3 separate regions of the Homo sapiens genome follow, and all the other regions are linked to region 1. Evidence: fine-mapped expression QTL. A gene starts in region 1. Each other region holds a variant in brackets. All regions are shown on one strand. Distances are between the middles of the regions. Region 1 holds the start of TMEM168 (transmembrane protein 168). Region 2 has its middle 49 kb from the start of TMEM168. Region 3 has its middle 39 kb from the start of TMEM168.

What was found. PIP is the estimated chance that this variant, and not a neighbour inherited with it, causes the effect. A credible set is the group of variants that fine-mapping cannot tell apart.
Region 2: its variant is the best candidate, but not a certain one, in a credible set for the expression of TMEM168 in whole blood (TOPMed, PIP 0.52).
Region 3: its variant is the best candidate, but not a certain one, in a credible set for the expression of TMEM168 in pancreas (GTEx, PIP 0.54).

The regions. Positions count from the first base shown.
Region 1 is chr7:112,786,955-112,795,143 of GRCh38, reverse strand. TMEM168 (transmembrane protein 168) reads left to right here and starts at 4,751. Exons shown (of 5, transcript NM_022484.6): 1 at 4,751-4,984. RefSeq lists an enhancer at 4,363-4,492.
Region 2 is chr7:112,736,956-112,745,144 of GRCh38, reverse strand. It overlaps the pseudogene MIPEPP1. Among named protein-coding and RNA genes, the nearest start is that of TMEM168, 49 kb to the left of the region's middle. The variant G/A (reference allele first, on the strand shown) is at 3,619.
Region 3 is chr7:112,747,337-112,755,525 of GRCh38, reverse strand. No RefSeq gene overlaps it. Among named protein-coding and RNA genes, the nearest start is that of TMEM168, 39 kb to the left of the region's middle. The variant T/C (reference allele first, on the strand shown) is at 3,440.

The DNA.
Region 1 (8,189 bases):
GAGCCTTAACGATGTTCAAATTCTTTAACCTATCTAGGAATCTACGTTCCGAAGTGATAATCAGAAATGCAGTACATCACAAATGCAATAAGCCCTAGTGCAGCACTTTCAACAGCAAAAATTGTAACATTCCAAATATTCAAAATTAGGGGAAGAATTAATCATAGTTCAGCCATATGAATAAATACTTGCCATCATTAATACAGTGAAAAGACTAATGAAATAAGGAGCATCACTTAGAACAGCAAACCAAAAGTGTTCAAACAGTTATGATGCTTATTATCTCACTTTAGAATTTTGGAGGTAGAAAAAAAGCAATTAGTTAACTCTGGCAAATACTGCTTGCTGTCATCCAATATTTATTCTCCTTTCTCTGAAAGAGAACCCTGATTTTAGGTGGGCACATGGCCGCCCCCGAAATTACCACCTTTTGCAGACTCTATAAATACTAAATACTAGTCAATGTGATATAAGCTGATGTGTCATACGGCTTCCAAGAAGTGTCAAAGTAAGGGTGGGGGGAAGTGCATTTCCTACTTGCTGACTGGAATTCAGAAGTCATAGCTGGAAATCAGGCAGCCATCTTGGCCTATGAAGAGGAAGCCACATCCTGAGAATGGTAGGGTAGAAAAAAAGAAGGAATCAGGATCTCTAACACCAAGGAGGACGATGTCTGCTCTGGAACACCTACTTCTAGACCGTTTTTACAAGACAGAGAAATAAACTGCAATTAAGACACTGTTGAGTCTTCTGATACACACATCTGAACCGAATCCCAAAATCTCGGCTCTACCCTTAGAGTTCCTGATTCAGTAGGTCTGGGGATAGGGCCTTATAATTTCCATTTCTAACTAGGTCCCAGGTGATGTTAATGCAGCTTGTCTGGGGACCATACCTGAAGAACCACTGCACTAATGGAGGTAATAACTTAGTAGTTTTCAAGCTGTGCTTTACATTAGAATCACTGGAAAAGAGGGAGGCTTTAAAACACACACACACACACACACACACACACACACACACACACACCCAAGGCTAATTTCAGAAACTCTAACTGGTCTGGGCCAGATGATTCTAAGGTGTAGACTGAATGATGTAACTCTTTCCCTACTTACTGAAACAATAGTAATGAGAAAGAAATACCTGTGTTTCCTCACAGAGTGGGGGTTGATATTTAGAAAGCTGCTCTTGATGGCCCAGAACTTGAAGCCAAAAGACTGAATTTAATTCCCTGATCTTAGACAGTTATGAGGACCTAGAACAACGTAGTATCTCTGGACCTTGGTTACATTATTTGCAAAATGGTGATGAAAATATTTACATCATTGGGTTTTTGTGTAGATTATGTAATATAGGTGAAAGTACTTTATATTACACAGAATAAGGGAGGCCCAGCTGATTTTCTATGGAGAATCTGAGTTAGTTTAGCCCTACGACTGAACTGAATAAATGGAAAAAATAGGAGAAAAACAATAGAGAACATAAGAAATAACATAGGACTCATCTGTGACTCCCTGCCAGAGGACTGGAATGTGTGATAAGATCCACCGTACCTCCTGTGATGCGTGCTGCTCCCTCTTCCTTTTCTTGACTTATTATCATGAGTATATTTTCAACAGGTGTTCCTAGTCTGAAATAACTCCTCAGGTGATATTCCTGGCCTGAAGCACACAGACCTTGTCTGTATAGAAGTAGGTGTTAAAGAATGGATATTCTAGTGATTAGGATCATTATACTGCCATCATTAACCAGAACCTGAAATCACCAGTCTCTGCAATGGTTCCCAGGTGGCTGTTTTATATTTAGGTGTCTGGCTGCGGATGTACCAGATGTCGCAAATTGACCCTTTCTTCTTTCAGGATAAAGGGGGATTTAGATTGGGTCCTTGAGGGCCTCAGGTGCCAGACTGAATTTGGACTTTATTCTGTAGCCTGTATAAATCACTGGTTTTAATCCCAGAAGTGTCAAAGCATGGTGCTCTGAGAGCATCAGCCAGGGGCCTGTGTAATGGGTTAGACTGAGCTGAGGCTGAAATCAAGATGACCAGCATAGAGGTTACTGAAGTAATACCGTAACAGAGTAGAAGCAATAGAAGTTGATGGGAAATAATAAATGCAAGAGATAGGGTGGATGAAAATGAACAGCACTTGGTCATTCATAAGTGTCAAATTTTTTTTGGTAAATACTGGTATCCTTCAATAACTAAAGATTGACAAGGCTATCTTTCTCCTCCCTCGGTACTAGGTAGTGTCATACAGTTAAAACAAGTCTCAGACTGAATGCTACTACACAAATCTTATCAGCAAGCAGACACAAAAAACAGTACACAAACAGTACTTTGTGGCAAAATATTAAACAGAAGTCTAGACTAAGCCATTCTGAAGGCTGTCGGTCTGCTACACAGCAGATTTCTACGCCACAGTTATGCATAAGTGCTTGTACAGTATTCTAACCAGCCACGTATTTTGAACATCTTGTTTCCACAATGAAGAATTCTTTCTAATCCTTTATGCTAACTAAGGTACATCTAGTGCAGATTTACATGGTGATACTGGAAGCATCTGTGCATTCAACTCTGCAGTGAACATTTTTGATTAGTCTTTCAAATGCTAATTACCCACCCTGGGCTGTGCAGATTAACTTTCAAACATACACACATCTCACTGAAGTATTCTAAAGTATAAGGACAAGATAACAAGCATCAAAAATGGTTTTAAAGTCATAAGGCAGAAGACCATGTTAGAGGAAGATGATGAAAAACCACTGATTTAGTGAGCTGGTCTTAGTGCTAAGCAACTGAATGCAGCTGTAGCTAATTTAAGCAGAAAGTAAGTTTACTAGAGGACGCTAAGTAGTTCAAAGGATAGCTGGAGATTGAGGCTTGCACCTACATGGCCAGAATCTACCTTGGCTGTTACCGGTGGAAGGTGTCCAGGTTCTTGGCATCTTGAACAAGGAATTAGACAAAACGCACAAACAAAGCAAGGAAGGAATGAAGCAACAAAAGCAGAGATTTATTGAAAATGAAAGTACACTCCACAGGGTGTGAAGAGCCGGAACATGGGGCTCAAGAGCGGGGCGGCCGGGTTATAGAATTTTCTGGGGTATAAACACCCTCTAGAGGTTTCCCATTGGCCACTTGGTGTACACCCCACGCAAATATAGTGGCCCACAATCAGTCTGATAGCGGAAAGCAACCAATCAGAGCCTGAAGCGAAGTTACAAAGGTTACACCCTATGCAAACATTTAATTAGTTATGGAAAGCAACCAATCCGAGGTACTTTCAATTTTCCGTCTGCCACGCAGAAAAGGGCGGTGGTGGGGGAGGGGGCCGGGTCCCTTTGTTACTTAGCTGTGGAAAGTTGGGGCTTTCCTTTTGATTTAGTTCTAGAAAGTCAGCATGAATCAGCCGTAAGTTCCTTGCCTCCAGACCCTATTGTCCTGCCTCACAGCTATGTAGTACAGAGTCTGTCACAGGCTACCCAGAAATGTACACAGAGACTGTTAACAGGCTACAGAACAGATTGGGAAAGGGCTCTGGGGTTGTGACCCTCACCAAGCACAGGCATCTTGCATCTCTGACATGTTAATGGTGGATGCCAGCACTCTCACTACTGCCTCGGAAGCTTACCTTGCTGTTAGGGATGGGTTCTCGATCTCTACACTTGCTATACTCCTACAGGTGACCTGGGAGTGTAGCTTTCTGTGCCTTTTTTGACTCATGGCTTCCAGCGGGTACACATGATTAGTTAAACAAGTGTTCAGCATTTCAGCGGCAGCCATTAGACTCTTAACTCAGGTGGGGAATTCTCCAAATACGGAAGGGGATTCAAATGGGGGGCATAATAAATGTATATAAATGTCCATTAAAGGCAAGTTGAGTTGGAAGTGATGACAATATATTTGAGTAGAAACATCTAGCAGGTAGTTGGAAATGTGGCACTCGTGTTCCCCAGAGAGCTAGTTACAGATTTGGGAAGTTGAGTTGTGATTGCTTTTAAAATCAGGAGTCTAGAGAGAATCTAACTCAAAATTTTCATCCACATATGCAGAATCTCAATCTGAGAGTTGTTCATTCCTATAGATGTGCTGGCCACACCAACCCCCAACATCTATTATGAAAATTAGGAAATTCACACTCTATTATGGAAAATAGGAAAAATATATAGATAATACATGCAAAACAAGTGGGAGGAGAGAACTACGGATCGTGGAGAGCCTATTGCATATTATTATTTTACAAATATTTAAGTGCCAACTATGTGTCAGGCACTATGCTAAGGTGATTTAATGTTGAGCAAAACCCGACATGTCCCTGCATTTGAGGAACTGAAAGGTCTGAGGGAGGGCCTAAGGAGCTTGGGCCTTAGCTGGTTACAAAGCCATATATTATGCCATATATATTAATGAGCAGCAACGCCTCCCGCAGTATTTACAGCCCACGCGTGGCAGTCCTGTCCACCCTGTCCCCGTTCGGTCCAGCCCGAGGCGGTGGCCTAGATGCTTGATGGGCACTGTCAGCCTGATCTTTGGTGGTCTTCCCGCTGTCTGTTCTCAGCTGCTGATTCCAGGTCCCAGGAGTCGACTTTGGCTTGAGGAAGGCAGGCGCCTTAGGTGGGGCAGTTGACACTCGCGCAGCGCCTTGCTCACCTGAGTGTGTGGCGGCGCGCGGGTTTGGGCGGGGAGGGGGCCGGGCCTCGGGAAGGAGGCGCGCCGCGCAGTTTGACCCCGGCGGCGTTCCGTACCGTCGCGGATTTCGGCGGCGGAAACATGGCGGTCGCGGCCGGGCCGGTAACGGAGAAAGTTTACGCCGACACTGGCCTGTATTAGCGCGTATGGCCTCGGGCCCTCGTTCCCCAAGGCGTGCCGCCTCCCTGTTCTCAGTCGCAGGCTGAAGCCTTGTCTGCTCTCCTCCTTTTTGGTTTGGTTTTGGAACTGACTCCGAGGGTTGGGAGAGCGCGTTGGTGGCGACGGCCGAGTCAGGTAGGGAGAAATGGGTGGACGGCAGGGCGGCGAGATCTAGGCATAGACACTGCCAGGGCTCCGCGTGGTCCGGACCCCAAGCTCCGCCCAGTCGGCCTCCCAGGGCCGGGGTAGGATACCTGCCTCTGGAGGAGTTGACAGTGGTGGTTGGAGATTGGAGGGTGTGGGAGCGCCTCTCCGTATTTCGCAAGGGTTCCCCCTCAACTGGGCGCCACGTTGTGGTCGCGTTCTCCGAGGCAGAGGATGGTGGAGAACAGCCAAGCTCCTTGTCGGACCTCCCACATCTCGCTAGAAGGAGGCCGAAAGGGAGAGAAATTGCTGTTGCTGCTCTAGTGCTGAGGAGTTTGATATTCTAGATGACATTTTCCTCGTATGAGATGGCTCAAAGAGTTATCAGTAATTCAGAACTGAAGCACTGAAATTCCCTGTTTTTTCAGTGTAGTTCTTTCAGCCTTGACACTTCTAGATGGGACAGAGTTTCTGAGTGAAAGATAATGCAAGTGATACGGTATGCCTCAAGCCATTCCCTAGAGGTAGGACATGGAGAGAGAATTGGTTTGGAAGAATTTGGGTGAATTAAGTAAAGACTGGTGGAAAGCTGAAATAGAAACCAAACATTCATGGACTCTCCCTTAGTTCTACTAGTTATTAGTTGTGGGATATAGCTAAGTTCTGTATTCTCTTTAGGCATTAGTAAGTGTCCAATGGTGACTATTGTTGTTAAATGTAGTTATTTCTTTATTAGTCTTTATTTTTCAACAAGTATTTATTGAATACCTTCTTGATGCCGGATTTTTGCTAGTCACTGGGTGTACAGTATTGAAGACAAACCCTCAGAGACCTTTTGATCTAGTGGGAAATGCAGACATGAAATAAGTGATGGTATGTAACAGAGAAAGTATGGGGGTCATGTAATGGGGAGGGGGCAGGGATAATCTCTTAAGAAAATGATTTATCTGAGACCTGAAGAGTTGGAATAAGCCAGGTGTGAGCACTGGGGTGGGGCCAGGAGGAGGAAAAGGAGTGTACCTGGCAAGGGAATAGCATTTGTGCAGTTTGTAATTGAAAGGTCAGTAAGGTTGGAAAATAAAGTGTGAGAGGAAAACTGGTAACAGATAAGGCAGGAGAGTTATTCAGGCCCAACACGGAGTGCCTTATAAGGCACTGTAAGGAGTTTTGACTTTATTGCTAAGGGTGATGGGACGCCATTGGAGCATTTTACATAGTGGAGTGCTAAATTTTGGTTTTAAAAAGTACACTTCTTAGAGAGGGCAAGAGTGGATACAGGGAAATGTTCAACATGATGGTGGCCAAAATTGGGATGGTGACCCTGGGGACGAGAAGTAGAAACATTTAAAAAATGTTTAGGAAGAATAGTAGACAGGACTTGGTGAGGATTAAATGTAGATGATGGTGGAGAGGAGGGTTAGAATAGTATGTAAGGTTTTATGAAATAATCAGACTCTGGCAGTGATTGGTTAGCTTTTCCCATATGCATATTGACTCCTCTATGGTCCATTTTCATCTACCTCTGGAATAATTGTCCATTGAATCATTAGTGACGGCAAACCGATTGAAAAGGAATGTAATGTTTTTCTGTTATTCTCTAACTCAGGCTGTCTTTTGAAGAAGATCAGAATGGGGAAGAGTTTTGTAAATTAGCCATTTAAAAACAATCTGCCATGTTGATTTTGGTCCATAGGAAGGTAACTGCATATATTGCATTATATGGATGCACTGTACTTCACTAATTTTTTTTTTACATGTTTACATTTACTTTGTTTCCAGGTATTTACCTCTGTTAACAGTGCAGAACAGAGCTGGTGCTTCATTTTCTATAGGTAGATTAATATATGTGTGCACTTAAGTAGAGAGATAATAATCAAAGACATAGAAATAAATGACATTGCTTAGAGAAAGTATATAGTGAGAGAAAAGCCTAGGTTTGGGGTTGAACATCCAAAGGATGGGTTGAGAATGAAGAACCTTCAAGGAGACCGAGGAGGGGAAACCAATAAATTAAGAAAAAAAATCTGGGGAGTTAGTCTTTGGATGCCTGCAAAAAGGAATGGTTTGGAAGGTGAGAGAAGTCAACAATGTAAATTTGTTTAAAGAATATGCAGGATATGGCCGGGTGCAGTGGCTCACACCTGTAATCCCAGCACTTTGGGAGGCCAAGGCGGACGGATCACCTGAGGTCGGGAGTTCAAGACCAGCCTGACCAACATGGAGAAACCCCATCTCTACTAAAAATACAAAATTAGCCGGGCATGGTGGCACATGCCTGTAATTCCAGCTACTTGGGAGGCTGAGGCAGGAGAATCGCTTGAATCCGGGAGGCAGAGGTTGCGGTGAGCCGAGATCGCTCCATTGTATTCCAGCCTGGGCAACAAGAATGAAACTCTGTCTCAAAAAAAAAAAAAAAAAAAAAAAAAAAAAAAAAAAATGCCAGTCGCAGTGGCTCACGCCTGTAATCCCAGAACTTTGGGAGGCGAGGCGGGTGGATCACCTGAGGTCAGGAGTTTGAGACCAGCCTGGCCAATATGGTGAAACCCCGTCTCTACTAAAAATACAAAAATTAACTGGGCATGGCGATGGGCGCCTGTAATCCCAGCTACTCTGGAGGCTGAGGCAGGAGAATCACTTGAACCCGATAGTCAGAGGTTGCAGGAGAATCGCCTGAACCCGATAGTCGGAGGTTGCAGTGAGCCAAGATCCTGCCATTGCACTCCAGCCTGGACAACAGAGCGAGACTCCGTCCCCCCTTCCCCCTCCCCCCAAAAAAGAATATGCAGGATACTGAGTGAAAAGTACCCATTGGATTTAGGAATTTACAGGTCATTTCAACACTTAGCAGAGCAGTTGTGTGGTGGGAAACACCATTTAGTGGTTTGAAAAGTGAATGGGTAAGAAGTGAAGCAACTAAATACCAGCTGTCAAAAGGACACGAGATTGAGCTTCATAGAGGATATGGGGATGAGCAAGGATTGTTTTTGTTTTGTTTCTTTACTTTTTTGGTATTGTTTTTAAAAGAAACAGATTTATAAATGTTTAAATACTAATGGATAAAATAAAAGTGAGAGTTTGCAGAGAGAGGAGAGAGTCTGATGTTCTAGAAGAGGCGGAAGGAAAGATGCACAATATGGCTGAAAGGTTTAGCCTTAGATAGAGAAGCAACTGCCTTCTTTCCTTATATTCGGAGATA
Region 2 (8,189 bases), 50 kb after region 1:
CTGCTTGTAACCAGTGGTGGGGCAAAACTGTTCAATATAGCTTTGTTGTTACTGGAACTATGTTAAAAATAAATTGCCAGAAGCTGATTGATTTAAGAGATGTTTTTGAACTTATCACTAGAGGATAGCTACCATTGGCTAACAGCCAACCTCTGTTGTAAGCCCTTGACATATGTTAACTCATTTAATCTTTTTCACAATCCTTTCAAGGAGGTACTATTATTCTTATTTTAGGAATGAGAAAGTGAGGCAGAGAGGTAAAATAAGGTAAAAATAATTCACCCGAGATCACCAAGTAGGAAAGGGAGGGGTCCACCCTGGGTGATCTGGCTCTGAAGCCTGATTCTAACCACATATGGTAAGCTCTCTTCAACTGAGTGTTCGAATCAAGTGGCAATGTTCTTTCATTAAAGGCATAGAAGTATATTTGGAAGAATTCTAGTATATGTGGGAGGCCTTGAAGAATCTTCAAAATTGAACCAATCATTAGTGGGAATATCAAACTTTCACTGGATTCTTCCTGCTCTAACAAAAAGATTAACCCTGTAATCTGCAAACATTCAGCCCCAGACATTTAAATTCTTACTAAATACTCTATGTTATCTCATTTAATCCTCATAACAACCCTATAGACTAGAGTGGATTTTATTTTCTCCATTTAAATTAACACATGACATGGACTTTTACAAAATGAGGGTGGACACCACAAATATAAATTCTGAAAATGCCAAGGGATTTATATATTACTATATCCTTTTTATAGATTTATGAAAAAATTTTGCTTAAAAAACCTGAGACCACAAATACCAACATATCTGGTTCTATAAGAATTGCGATAGGAAGCACTACTATAGAAGAACAAACTAACATAATAAGTTAATGTAAGAGATATATAGGGTAATGATACTTGGGTAATGTGGAAGTTGGGTTGGTTCATAGACTGTTTTTTATAGTTAAGGACATTTAAAATTGTAGAATTACAAACCTCAGCAGAAGGAAAAAAAAAAAAAAGACCTCAGCTGGGCTGGTAACATTAGCCTTGTTAGCTGTATTCTAGGAAAATTAGAAACAAGAGCTCTCTCCCCAGAGAAGTGCCCCAGGCTGCAGCAGCTCAACTCCAAACAGGTTTCACTACCTCCTATGCCCACTTAGAGGGAGGCTCCACAGGCTCTAATCTCTGTGTTCTCTGGCCATGCTTGAGTGTCTACCAGCCCTCTCCTAATTAAATTTTGTCAACACTTCTATTCTAGTTCTTTGTTCAATCTAATATTCCCTGTAGTGAATTCCAATCGCACTGAGCTGCCTGCCTTAACAGGCCATTTTAATACCCAGGTACCTGTGATTTTTTTTTTTTTTTTTTTTTTTGGTGGTGGTTTTTAGTGCTCTGGTTATCATTAAGATGTTATTTTATTATTTACGTTATAAGATAAAAAATAAAATAATCATAAACATGGAAAAGATTTTTATTAAAGGGTAATATCTCTCCTGGCATTGCAATTTTCCATCCACCTTTATGTTTATTTTTGCCATTGGTCTTCACCTGATTTGGGGTGGGGAGCAGATATCAAAGTCACTTAGGAAAAGCTTTTAAATAATTCGTACCCTCCTACTCTTCCCTTCTGCAAGATTATGTTTTGTTGAAAACAACCATTTTTTAAAAATCAAGCATAACCTACATTTCCCCAATTCCTCAAAGTTCTTAAACAAGAGTTTCAAAATCCTTAGGAATTTATAGACCTTTTTATTTTTTTAAGGCAGGGAGGAGGGCTTTATGTTTAAATGTACTTATATAACAAGCTTTCCTGGCCATGAGTAAAACATCCTGTTTTATGTTAAGCACCATCACATAACAAGATATAACCGTATATGTTTTTGCAGCAGTTTTAAAGTTTCTTTCATTTCTAAATTGAAAAAGATACTATTAATTTTAAAATTTCAGTTAAAGGAAAAAAGGTAATTGAAGACCCCTTCCTGTGTTAAGGAACCATAGATTATTCAATAGTATTCTCTGAAGGTTCTCAAAATAAAATTATTTCCATCCTGATTTTAATTTAAGGGAATCTTAACTAGCACATTTACTTTAAATATGTACTTCCTCTGTTGTTCTCTCTTCTCTATCTCCCAAGTGGCTTTTTCATCCAGAAATTGGAAGGCACTACACCTTTAGGCTAGTAGCCTTTGGGTGAATGAAAAACAGAGTTCAGACTGAAGAAGTGTTGTGCGTGTCTGCTCAGACTATCTTTCTTCCATCATCTCCTGCTACTAATTCTTCACCAGTAAAAGTGTACATTCCCGTCCCCACCCCAAGGTTAGATAATTGGGGAGTTGTTGGGAGTCTCTTATTAGTTGGCACAGCTGAGTTTTATTTATTTATAATTTATACTCCATGTATCTCCAACATATTTGAGGTGGTCAACAATAAAACTAGTATGTCCATTATAGAAATTAAAAGTAATCTTTCCCATTTTCCCAACTAATCCCTGAATACACCCCCCTCCCCTCCCCCACAATAATAGAAAGAAGTAAAATTTAACTTTGATTCAGCCTTGGTTAAAATGATAGGAAAGCATAAGTTACAATAATATTTGATTATTTCTGATCATCTCAAGAACATAGGAATCAAAAATATTGGATAGGTGGGGAAAACATTTTATTTAGAATTAAATGAATGTGCCAGTTACTAAGTTTTTGTTTCTCAGCATCAAATCTATCCATTCTGTGCTACATAATGCTGGAGCTGAGACTTTACAAACTACATTCCAGCTGGCTCCCTCTTAAGTTCTGCCAATTATGGTGATGACAGGAGGTTGTTTAGAAGGACAGCACAAGGTGGAGACAGGAAGAAAGAACTACTTGCTCTTGCCTGCTTCCTCTTCCTGGAAGCATCAGCCCTACATTGCTTTTTCACCCTAAGAAGGCAATTCCGCTCCCCAATGCTGCCTCACCCTGAGAGGGCAAGTCCTTCCCATCACAACTCTTATAGAACCAGCCTTTTTGCACCTTGTCAGAGACACAAAAACTAGCTATCTAAAGACCCCTTTTTAGAGATCTGAGTTTCAGAGCTTCTTGTCTCCAAGCTTCCAAGTTTTAATACAGATTGAACATCCCTAATTCAACAACCTGAAATTTTAAATGCTCCAAAATCTGAAACTCTGAGGACTGACATGATGCCACAGGTGGAAATTTTCACAGTTGACCTCATGTGATGGGTCACAGCCAAAATACAGTCAAAACTTTGTTTTATCCACAAAATTATTTAAAATCTTATATAAAATTATCTTCAGGCTATATATATGTATATGGAACATAAGTGAATTCCATGTTTAGACTTGGGTGCCATCCCCAAGGTATCTCATTATGTATATGCAAATATTCCAAAATCTGAAGAAAGCTGAAATCAAACACTTCTGGTCCTAAGCATTTTGGATAAGAAATACTCAAACCTGTATGTGCAACCTCTTCCCTTTGTTCCCCCAGCCCTAGGAGTGGTATCTGCTCCTGCAGTTGCTTTATGTTTCCTTTTTGCCTTTTTAGCCACCTAACTAACAACTTTATACCTAATTAACAATTCCTTATGTTATATTTTCTGTTAAATAAGTAGTGTGACTACTATATCCC[G/A]ACAGGATCTTAATGGCTACAATGGATAGAGGCCATGTCTCTTATTATCTTCACTTATGTGAAGCAGTATGCCTCCTAAGATAGTCTAACACTCTCTTCCAGAGCTATTAATACAAAGATCTTCCCATGATAGTCAATTTTTGTTAAAGTTTCTCCAACCACACTGGAAGCAAGAAAAAAATTATTTTTTTAAAAAAGTTTGTTTTAACAAGGAGGCAAGTAAGACATTCTTTTATTCCCTTTTTTATTTTTGGCAAAATATGCTTATTGTAAAAATTGTCGTTTGCTCTTTTTTATGGTGTAAATGAACTTTGTTAGACCTATGACTGCATGCATTATATATGGGTCAGAAAAGCCAGACTCTAGGTCTAATTTTTCTATTTGTTAGCTTGGTAAATAAAATGAAGATGGTGGTGCTAGCAGCTTAAAAACTACACCCAATGGGAAGTCTGGATTATTTAATGATTTACTACTGGAAAATTAAAAATAAATTTAAAAGAATGCTAGAAAGATCACAAGTTCTATAAAGAGAGAGATCACTGGGAGCCTGGGATTATATTCTCAAATGAAATTTTAACTTTCAGCTCTCTGGCAAGCCAAGGAAATAATCATTGCTTTTATGTACAAGTAAAGAAGTGACATCATCAAAATTGCTGACTAGTGATGCTTGATACGCATCCCTCCCACAAGGACCAAGGCAACAAATAAACAGCTAAGATTTTACTGGGATGTTGAAGGGAGAGTGCTGATGTGCAGCAAGGGAGTGGAGATGCACCTGTGGTGATTCACTGACATCCAGGAGGGCGGTATGGAGGTACCTGGTGTCTGCAACCATCTCCCCTGCTCAGATTGAATCTGCCAGGAGTCAGGAGGAACTTCCCATTTCAGGGGGAAAAGGTAGGCAAAAGATCCCCACCAGTCGCCATTGCCACCACAAACACTCACAGTTCTTAGGACAGGAGAATCACATGCTCCTTGCAAGCCCTGAGCCCAGTTTGGAGAACTGCCAGGAATTCATGCAGCTGCATTGCCCCAGTTTAGGGGCATGACGTGTATACTTCCCACCCACCACTCACCCTCTGCAAGACAAGCTGGTGCAGCATCGCATCATGAGAACAGAGCCATCTCTGTAGTGCACCTTGTTCTGATGGCCAGTAGCCACTGTTCCTCTCCAATACTGGGGCTTCATCTTAATTTTACCAAGCCTACACAGGTGGCTGAATGCCACAACTCCATCTGCACAAAGCTCAGGCCCAGGGTAGGTTGTGATTCAGGTCTTGCACAGCAAGGTAACCCACCCATCCCTGCTGCCACACTTCCACCTGAATGAACAGTCTGGCAGTCCCACCCAGGGTGAACTCAACCTTGAGCCAGCCAAACCACTGCATGCCCCCCTCAAAGTAGGAGAGGCATCCAAGCCTCTGAACAGCTAATACATACTTCAGGCTGGTGGCGCAGCTACACACTTCTGCTCAGGACCTGAAAAATAGCCCTGTCCCTGTAGTGTCCTCCCACTCCCCAGCAGACATGCCCCTAGCCTGCCCAATGGCCCTGCACCTGCAATCAAGATCTGAGACACAGTCCCACAGTCTGGCTTCTGGTGGGCACAACCCTAGGCCAGCCAAGCAGCTTTGAGCCCATGACCTGGACCTAAGAAACAGTCCCCAAAGGCTATCCTGAGCTAGCTGAGCTGCCTAACACCTGTGTCCCAAAATTGAGAAACACTCCGGTGGGTCCCCCTTCCCCAGAGCAGACACACCCTTAGGCCATCTGAGCAGCCTTGCACCCATGTCTCAGGCCTGAAAAACAGTACTGTGGGCTATCCCTGGTAGATATACTACCAAGCCAGCTGACCAGCTGTGTGCCTACATTCTGGACGTGAGAACAATTCCACAATGTACTCCTGGCAGGCATGCCACAAGGCCAGCCAAGCAAATGTGTGCCCATGCTCCCAGCCACAGTAATAACTCCATGGCCTCAATTCCAGTGAGCCAGACCCCAAGGTGACTGAACCACTATGTGCACACACACTCCCCAAACCTAAGAAATAGCCTGGAGAACCCACTCCCAGCATAGGAACCCACTCCCATTACCATCAAAATCTTAGCCTAGGACACTGAGACACTCATAAATGTTACTAGTGTGGATTACAGCTGAAAAAAAAAAAAAGACTACATGGAGACTACACTACAGTGTCCACCCAGAACCAAGGCCAACACTCCAAGACCCATTCATACAAATAAGCTTTTCCCTATGAAACCTACTTCATAAAATTGGAAGAGGCAATTTTTCCACCAGATATGTAGAAATCAATGTAGGAACATGTTGAACATGAAAAAGAAAGGAAACATGACACCTCCAAAGGAAAACAATGTCTCCAGTAATAGACCCCAATCATAAGGAAATATGTCAAATGCCAAAAATGAATTCTAAATAATAGTAAGGAAACTCAGTGAGATACAAGAGAACACAGATAGACAATTCAGTGAAATCAGGAAAGTAATTATTTGAATGAGAAATCCAACAAAGACAGATATCATTAAAAAAGAGCCAAACAGAAATCCTAGAGCTGAAGAATTCAATGAATGAAATGACAAAATACAATCCAGAGCTTCAACAACAGACTAGACCAAGCAGAAGAAATAATTTCTGAACTTGAAGGCAGGTATTTTGAAATATTACAAGTGAACAAAAGAAAGAAGGAAAGAAAGAAAAGAAAAAAGCATTTTAAAAATGAAGAAAGCCCGGAAATGCAGAACGTGCACTCCTGGCTGGAGCTGCAGCACTGGAGCAAGGGTCTTGCAGCTGGGCATGGGGTTACTGCACAAACACTATGTGCCCAAAGGCTAGGCTGCTTTGTAGCTGGAGTAGTGCCCCTGTGGCCAGGGCGGGTAGGCAGGGGCAGCCTCAGAGTTGATACCCATGTGGAAGGGTCAGCATCTGCTGGTCCCTGGTGGGCTCCGCCTTCAATGTCAGGGCTACCACTTGGACCTGTTTAGTGAGCACTGGGGTCTTTTTGGATGTCCTGAGCTCAGCGCTCCAGAAAAATTTAATATTGCCCAATAAAAAGCCTTGAGAAAGACAGAATTGCTTGTGGAACATGCATGTTCCACCCCACCTGGACCCCAGATTGTGCGCATCTTCGATGAGCTCTCAGATTCCTTGTTCAGAGTGGCTGACTTGGATGAACACAAATGTGGAATTATGTCAAAGTTTGCAAAAATTACTAGCTGATTAAAAACAAAACAAAAACTAGGCAAGTGGCCTAACTGTTTATGTTTGATTTTGAAATTAGTGGAATCCATCTAGACAAAGAAAAGTGTAAAAGAGCAGTGGACCTCAATGTTAAAATCTTGGATTTGAGTAGTACATGTCTTACGGCAAACAACTTTCCCAACAAGATTGAGAAGCATCTCTTACTAGAACACATTCACCATAACTTTTATCTGATGGGGATCGTATCATAATTGATGGTCTCCATGCAGAAGCACCAGGCGACTTGGTGTGAGAAGCTGCTTACAAAATTTTTCTTCATCCCTATACTGGTCAGTTAAAATGTTTAGAAGAATTGCTCAGCAACAGAGATCCTCTGCAAAAGTTGGTAGGGTATTCTGTGTTTTCCAGCAGGGCTCTCCAAGGAACAATAGTTAAAAATTCAGAGACTGTCATCCAGTTCCCTGAGAAACTCTCTGACAAACTTTCTGAAAGAACTTGAAAAGATTTTGAGATGATACGACAGATGAAAAGTGAAACAGAAGAACAAAGCTTTAGGCATCATGCTACCTGACTTCAAACTATACTACAAGGCTACAGTAACCAAAACAGCATGGTACTGGTACCAAAACAGAGATATAGATCAATGGAACAGAACAGAGCCCTCAGAAATAATGCCACATATCTACAACTATCTGATCTTTGACAAACCTGAGAAAAACAAGCAATGGGGAAAGGATTCCCTATTTAATAAATGGTGCTGGGAAAACTGGCTAGCCATATGTAGAAAGCTGAAACTGGATCCCTTCCTTACACCTTATACAAAAATTAATTCAAGATGGATTAAAGACTTAAACATTAGACCTAAAACCATAAAAAACCCTAGAAGAAAACCTAGGGATTACCATTCAGGTCATAGTCATGGGCAAGAACTTCATGTCTAAAACACCAAAAGCAATGGCAACAAAAGCCAAAATTGACAAATGGGATCTAATTAAACTAAAGAGCTTCTGCACAGCAAAAGAAACCACCATCAGAGTGAACATGCAACCTACAAAATGGGAGAAGATTTTCACAACCTACTCATCTGACAAAGGGCTAATATCCAGAATCTACAATGAACTCAAACAAATTTCCAAGAAAAAAACAAACAACCCCATCAAAAAGTGGGCGAAGGACATGAACAGACACTTCTCAAAAGAAGACATTTATGCAGCCAAAAAACACATGAAAAAATGCTCAACATCACTGGCCATCAGAGAAATGCAAATCAAAACTACAATGAGATACCATCTCACACCAGTTAGAATGGCGATCATTAAAATGTCAGGAAACAACAGGTGCTGGAGAGGATGTGG
Region 3 (8,189 bases), 40 kb after region 1:
TTTCTCTATTTTCTGTGTGCTCACTTTATTAATATCCTACTACTGGGATGTAGGACTTAATTTTTTTTTTCTTTTTTTTTTTTTTTTTTTTTTTTTTTTGCTGCTGTTCTGCATTTTGGAAGATTTTCTTGGGTTTGCCTTCCAATACTTCTGAGATTTTTTTTTTTCTCCAGCAATCATACATTTAATTTCCAAGAACTCTCATTCTTCATAATTCCTTTTTCATGATATGGATTTAGCATCTTTTAGATTTGTTGAAATGCTAATTAGAGATTTTTTAAAGAATATTGTAGCATTTTTAATAGCAAAAAAAGTTTTCTTAAGCAAAATAAATGTTTACAGGAAAATGGATAAACATATTTATACATCCATTTAAATGAAAAATTTAGAGCTCTACTGACTGATACAGATAAATCTCAAAAACATACATACTGTTTTTTTAAAGTTGTAAATACATTAAGCATGATACCATTTATATAAAATTTTAAAACTTGGAAAGCAATGCTATATATTGATTTTGGATACATATATAATGAAAGTAATATTTTAAGAGAGTAAGAGTAATGTTATATTTTATAAAAATATACATGGAAATGACACATAAATTCAGATTAATGGTAAGGAGTTAGAGATTTAGAAGACAGTAAAGAAGACCTTGAACTTCCTTATTTTTTTTTTTAATTATACTTTAAGTTCTGGGATACATGTGCAGAAAGTGCAGGTTTGTTAAATAGGTATACACGTGCCATGGTGATTTGCTGCACCCATCAACCCATCATCTATATTAGGTATGTTTTCACTCATAAGTGGGAGTTGAACAATGAGAACACAGGGACACAGGGAGGGGAACATCACACACTGAGGCCTGTCAGTGGGTGGGGAGATAGGGGAGGGATAGCATTAGGAGAGAGTTTTTAAAGTTCTCTTTGGATTTCTGAATTTCCTTTGCTTCCTTTGGCATTTGTTGACATTCATGTTAGTTTCCCTCAGTTTCTCTTTTAAATTCCAGGCTTTTCTAAAGTAGCTGAAGATCTTTGGCTACCTCTTCATGTTTAAGGAGGGAGTAATAAAAAGGCTGGTATATGTGCTGCCTAAGTGAATGCTAAAAAGGCTGATTTAAATCTCTTTATCCATAGTGGAAACTGTCAACCAGAGGGCTTCATATTTAAGTGAAAGGGTGGGAAGCCAGCTTTTATATTATGGGGATTTTCCACATGCCCGAAAAAGGCAGGCTTTACTCTCAGGTATAAATACCTACATGCCCTTTAGAGAACTGTTTGAGTTTTTTGCCTGGAGAGTAAAACACCTGGCTATAAGCAGATGAGCATAGGGGAGAAGGGCATTTGGTCGATAGGAAGATCTTCAATTATTACAAATAGCCCCACTTCTTAACTTCTTCCTCAGTTTACCAGCAATCTCTGAGTCCTCTCTGGAGTTGTGCTCCATGAGGCTAGATAGGACATTTCAGAACCAAATGGAAGTTTTAGGACTGATAAATATATCTTAAATTTTAAAATAAATTACTGGATGTCACTCATTGTGTGTTAGGGGAGGAAGGGTATCTGGCATAGGATATCAGAGCCCGTAGAAGGAGTCCACAAAAAGGATGGTCTGACATGGGCTGAGGAGGGCATCCACACCAGCCATAGAGGTGGGATGATGAGAGATTGTCTACATAAAGGCGGACTTACAAATAAGATCATGGGGAGTAGGTTCTTCTGTTGAAGAAAGAAATTGCAAATATGGAAATGGAGAAAACTAGAATGATCCCTAAGGTGTTGGATTGAAAGATAAAGTATCAGGTATATATAGAAATGAATGTTGATATAAATATGTGTAACCATGTGTGTGTGTATTTTTTCACATATATTTGATAGATCTGTCTACTAAAAGGGCCTGAGACTACCAGTCCCCAATAGCAATGAACATACCTATATCTCAGATCTTAGCTTCTGAATATTATTCTCCACTGAAAGGAATAAGGGCTCCTTGGAGAAATAACTGATTACATCTGAATACTTTTGCTGAGGCAGCAGAAATACAAGGTGAGGTTGGAATATGTTAGTCCTAGAAAGGAAGAAGTGTTCAAATAATGATAAGAAACAAATAAAAAAAACACAGAAGTTAGTTTGAAACAACTCCCAGTGGCCAGAGATGGGGAAATTGAGTATCAAAACAAATTACAGTAATGGACCATAGCCCATTGAGTAATATAGGAAATAATGTGCCTATACTGATAAATAAATATATAAATGAAAACTTTGAAGAACAGAATATTTACATTAAAACAATAAGTGAAGAGGCATAAAAGGAGAAGAAAACAGAATACTAAAGAAATACTGGTTTGATCCAATAGAAGGCAAGAAAAAAACAACAAAGGAACAAAGAACTGATAGGATGAACAGAAAACAAATAGCAAATGCTAGGTTTACATTTAATCACATAACTATTAAATGAAATTAGGCTAATGGCTTTAATTAAAAATCAGATTATCAAACTAGAGTTTCTCAGCACCGTTGACATTTTGGAACAGATAATTCTTTGATGTAGAGGCTGTTTTGTGCATTGCAAAATGTTTAACAGTATCCCTGACCTCTACCCACTAGATACCAGTAGTACTACGCTCCTCTCTTTCACTTATGATAACTAAAATTATTTCTAGATATTGCCAACAAGGAAACTCCCCCTTATGATACCGTCAGATCTTGTGAGACTTATACGCTATCACAAGAACAGCATGGAAAAGAGCTGCCCTCATGATTCAGTTACCTCCCACAGGGTCCCTCCCACAACACATAGGAATTCAAGATGAGATGTGGTTGGGGACACAGCCAAACCATATCATGCCCCATGGTGGGGGTGAAGAAATCACCCCTGGTTGAGAACCACTTGACTAGATAAAAACCAAAATCCAATAATATGTTGTTTAAAAGAAATACATGTTAAATACAAAGATATGGGTAGTTTTAAAGAAAAGGATTCAAAAAGATATTCCATGCAAATATTAAAAATGAAATAGCTACCAGGCATGGTAGCTCAGCTACTTGGGAGGCTGAGGTGGGAGGATCACTTGTGCTAAGGAGTTTGAGATTGCAGTGAGCTATGGTCATGCTACTGAATTCCAGCGTGGGTAACAGGAGAACCTGTCTCTAAAAAAAATTTTTTTATTAATTTTTAGCTGATGGGGCTATGCTAATATCAGACAAAGTAGATTTGAAGACAAAGAACATTACCAGAGATAGGTAGATCCTTTTATCATCATGAACTATCTCTGTCAAAGGGACCTAAATGTGCAAGTACCTGATAACAGAACTTCAAAATACACCGAGAATAAATAGACATAAAGGAAAACCATAGAAAATTCCATTATCATATTTGACAATTTAAACACTGCTCTTTCAGTATTGCTAGAGCAACTAGATGCAAATCAGTAAGATAA[T/C]AGACTACTTGAACAATGCTATCAACCAACCTGACCTAAATGATACCTTCACAATATTACACTCAACAATTGCAGACTATACATTTGTTTCAAAGTCACCCAGAATATTCACCAAGAAAGAGCATATGCTGGGCCAACAAACAAGTATTATTAAATTCCAAGTGACTGCAACCAAACAAAATATTATTTTCTGACCACAACAGAAATAAATTAAAAATCAGTAATGAAAAGATATCTAGATAAATCCACAAGTGTTTTATAACAACATACTTCCAATAAAAGTAGAATATTTCTTTAGCGAAGACTTTTTTTGACCCATAGGATTTTCTTTGGGCCAAAGAATCATAAGGGAAACTTAAAAATATTTTCAAATGATGTCAAAGTTCTTCAAAATAATTGGGTTTTAAAGTATCCCTGATTTGCTGGTACTTTAAGCAAGTAAGTAAAGCTAGCACTGATGCAGGATTATTTTCATGCCAGTACGTAGAATATAGAAATTCATTTTTTTACTATATGTACAAGTTAAATAATATCTGAAAAAAGTTTGTCAGTTAATGTATATGTAAAGGCATATTTTACTGTTGTCTTTTTACTTTTTTTAATCTTTCAAAATACCTAACATCAAAAGACACTGGTTTGATTGATGTTTTCAAATAGTCTCACCAAAAATAATGCTAGCGGAATGAAAGTAATTGTGTATGAAAAATTTTCCATCAGATGACAGCCTTCTTTGAAAAAAAAAGTTTTTCAGAACTTTCAAATGCCTTAAAAATACTGATGCAAGATAAATTTGCTAATCAACTCAAGATTTTTTGATTTTGAACAATTGTCAAGACAGATACAGTATTTTTAATAGGTGTGACAGTTTTCTTTCAGATGATAATTATAAATTTTATAAGATTTATATTTATCTTGTTTTATTCTTTAAACAATTTTTTTGACTTTTTGAATATCTACTTAATGTTAAAATATGTTTTTTTTCTCCTTCCGACTTTTATGTTCAGAGGGTACCTGTGCAGATTTGTTACATGAGTAAGTTGTGTGTAGCGAGGTTTGGTATATAAATGATTTCATCATCCAGGTAGTGAGCATAGTACCCAATAGGTAGTGTTTCAATCCTCATCTTCCTCCCACCCTCTACCCTCAAGTAGGTCCCAGTATCTGTTGTTCCTTTCTTTGTGTCCATGTGTACTCAGCGTTTAACTCACACTTCTTATAAGTAAGAACAATATTTGGTTTTCTGTTCCTGCATTAATTCACTTAGGGTAATAGTCTCCAGCCTCATCCATGTTGCTGCAAAGGACATGATTTTATTATTTTTTATGGCCATGTAATATTGTGTAGTATACATGTACCACATTTTCTTTATCCAGTCCACCGTTGATGGGCATCTAGTTAAGCTCCATGTCTTTGCTCTTGTGCATGAGAAGTGCTGTGATGAGCATACACATGCATGTGTCTTTATGGTAGAACAATTTATATTCCTTTGGTTATATACGCAGTAATGGGATTGCTGGGTCAAATGATAGTTCTGTTTTCAGTTCTTTGAGAAATCTCCAAACTACTTTGCAGTGGCTGAACTAATTTACATGCCTACCAACAGTGTGTAAGTGTTCTCTTCTATCCACAACCTTGCCAACATCTGTTACTTTTTGACTTTTTAAAAATAGCCATTCTGACTGGTGTGAGATGGTATTTCATTGAGCTTTGATTGGCATTTCTCTAATGATGAATAATGTTGAGCATTTTTTTCATATGGTTTTCAGCTGTGTGTATGTCTTCTTTTGAGATGTGTCTGTTTATGTTTAAAGGCATATTTAGGATAACAACCAAATCATAAGATTTTGCTAAGTATCAATATATAGTCATGTATTGCTTAACAATGGGGATACATTCTGAGAAATGCATCGTTAGGTGATTTCCTTGTTGTGTGAATATCAAAGTGTGCTTACATAAATCTAGATGGTATTGCCTGCTAAACACCTAAGCTATATGATGTAGCCACCATCATTGATGTGCTCCACCCTTGACCAAAATGTTGTTATGCTGCACACGACTGCATAAAAAACCTGAAGCCATTTTTCAAATCCAGGGACCCTGGTGTCCCCCTTGTGGAGCATTATAGAGTCACAGAGGATAAAACCTCCAAAAGAGAATGAACGCAGAACTTTCCTCACATGAAACCATTCTCTCTACTTATTGTCAGAGGATGATGTTTCAACTGAGTGTCTACTCTGACTCTAGAAAGTGATTTTCATCCTTGGATACAGTCACTGAAGTATCTTGCCTGACTGTGACCATTTACTGTGGAGATACAGCTTAGCTTATTCTGACACTTCAAAATTAGACATTCCTACCATAGGCTGGTTTTGACAACTTTGCCCTGGATACGATAAAAGTCTTCCCTTATAGAACTTCATCAAAGTCTGTGACTGCCTGTGAGTATTTCCTGAACACCTGTAGTTCTCTCTCAATTGTTTTTATCTGGCTTATGCAAATCGTTGCCTAGAATCCCAAACAGGAATCCTGTGTAGTACACATATTCACTTAATCCTGTATCATACTTGCCTGCTCTTTAATTGGTCATACTTGCTATAATAGATTGTGAAACCCATTCTCAAGCCCAACTAGCTTTGGATAGCCAAAGAAAGAGGTCATCAAAACCATTAAAATGGTTTCCTTGCATCCTTGGGCAGTCATTTACCCTTCATTTTTAACCTCACACTTATAAAAATGGAAGACTAAAGAAGGTAATAAATATAATGTTAACATTTAGTTGTTCAGAACAGAGAATAAAGAAATTCAATGTTATTTCATAAAGAATTCAATGTTATTTTGTAAGTCCAGAAATTGTTTTGAGTGCAGTCAGTGTTGGGATTGTAGAAAATTATGGTTGTAACTAATATTTTGCATATAAGGCATTTCCAACTAGGAATGAGCTTATAACTTTAGCTAGCATGTGAAAAGGAATAATTTTAGTGATGGATCCTAATCAGGATAAAAGATTGTTAAGTCTGTATCTAGACATTTCACAGTGAAATTGCAGGGAAAAAAAATCTAAAGCAAATAGTTTTTTTTATTATTTATTTGTTTGTTTGTTTGTTTTTTGAGACACAGTCTCTTTCTGTTGCCCAGGCTGGAGTGCAGTGGCATGATCTCAGCTCACTGCAGCCTCAACCTCCCAGGCTCAAGTGATACTCTCGCCTCACCCTACCAGGTAGCTGGGACAACAGGCATGAGCCACTACACCCAACTAATTTTTGTATTTGTTGTAGAGATGGGGTTTCTCCATGTTGCCCAGGCTGGCAAATAGATTTTTAAAGTAACAGATTATCTTCAAAGTGGCAAAATGTACCCTGTCAGCTCTGGTTTAGCAGTAGTATGAAAAAATCAAGGGACAACAATTATATAACCAATATACTAAAAGAAAATAATGACTAACATAGAATTCTATGCTTCAGGAATGAAGCATTCTTCATTCTTCAGGAATGAAAATGAATAATATCCTTCAGGAATGAAAATGAATAAAGACATTGTCAGTCAAAAACTGAGAGAATTTGCTACCAGCAGACTTCCAGGAAGGAAATAGGCATGTTAGGCAGAAGAAAAATACCAGCTATGCAGGCAAGAAAGAATATTTAAAAAGCCATAAATTAGTAGATAAATCTAAAAGAACATTGACTATGTAAAATAATAACAGTAAAGTTTTGTGGAGTTTAAAATATAGAGAGAATCAAAATAAAGGTCATATGTCCAACAATAGTATATTAGTTGTATTTTCCTACTAGAGGGTTAAGGTACTAATTTGTCACTTCTAGGGTAAAAAAATTGCATAGTTTTCAGACTAACAGGAAAACAGAATTTAAAAATCAATCACTTCATAAAAAGGCAAGAAGAGAGAGAAAACAAAACAGAATAGGCAGGACAAATAGCACAGTAAGAAGGTTGATTTAAACCCACATTTACCACTTCAAAACTTTTGAGGATGATATATAGGAGTATATTAGTCCTTTCTCTCATTGCCATAAAGAAATACCTGAGACTGGGTAATTTATTTATTTATTTATTTAATTTTTTTTGAGAGAGAGTTTCACTCTTGTTTCCCAGGCTGGAGTGCAATGGCGCAATCTCAGCTCACTGCAACCTCCGCCTCCCGGGTTCAAGCAATTCTCCTGCCTCAGTCTCCCAAGTAGCTGGGATTACAGGCATGCGCCACCACACCCAGCTAATTTTGTATTTTTAGTAGAGATGGGGTTTCTCCATGTTGGCCAGGCTGGTCTCGAACTCCCGACCTCAGGTGATCTGCCCACCTTGGCCTCCCAAAGTGCTGGGGTTATAGATGTGAGCCACTGCGCCCAGCCAAGACTGGGTAATTTATAAAGAAAAGAGGTTTAATTTGCCTATGGTTTGGCAAGCTGTACAGGAAGCATGATGCTGGCATCTGCTTGGCTTCTGGGGAGACCTCAGGAAACTTACAATTATGGTGGAAGGCAAAGTGGGAGCAGGCACATCACACGGCCACAGCAGGAGGAAGAGTGAGAGGAGGGAGACGCCACACACTTTTAAACAACCAGATCTCATGAGGACGCACTCACTATCATGTAGACAGTACCAAGGGGATGGTGCTAAATCATTAATGAGAAGCCACCCCCATGAGCCAATCACCTCCCACCCAATAGGCCCAACCACCAACACTGGGGATTACAATTCGACATGAGATTTGGTGGGGACACAGATCCAAACCATATCA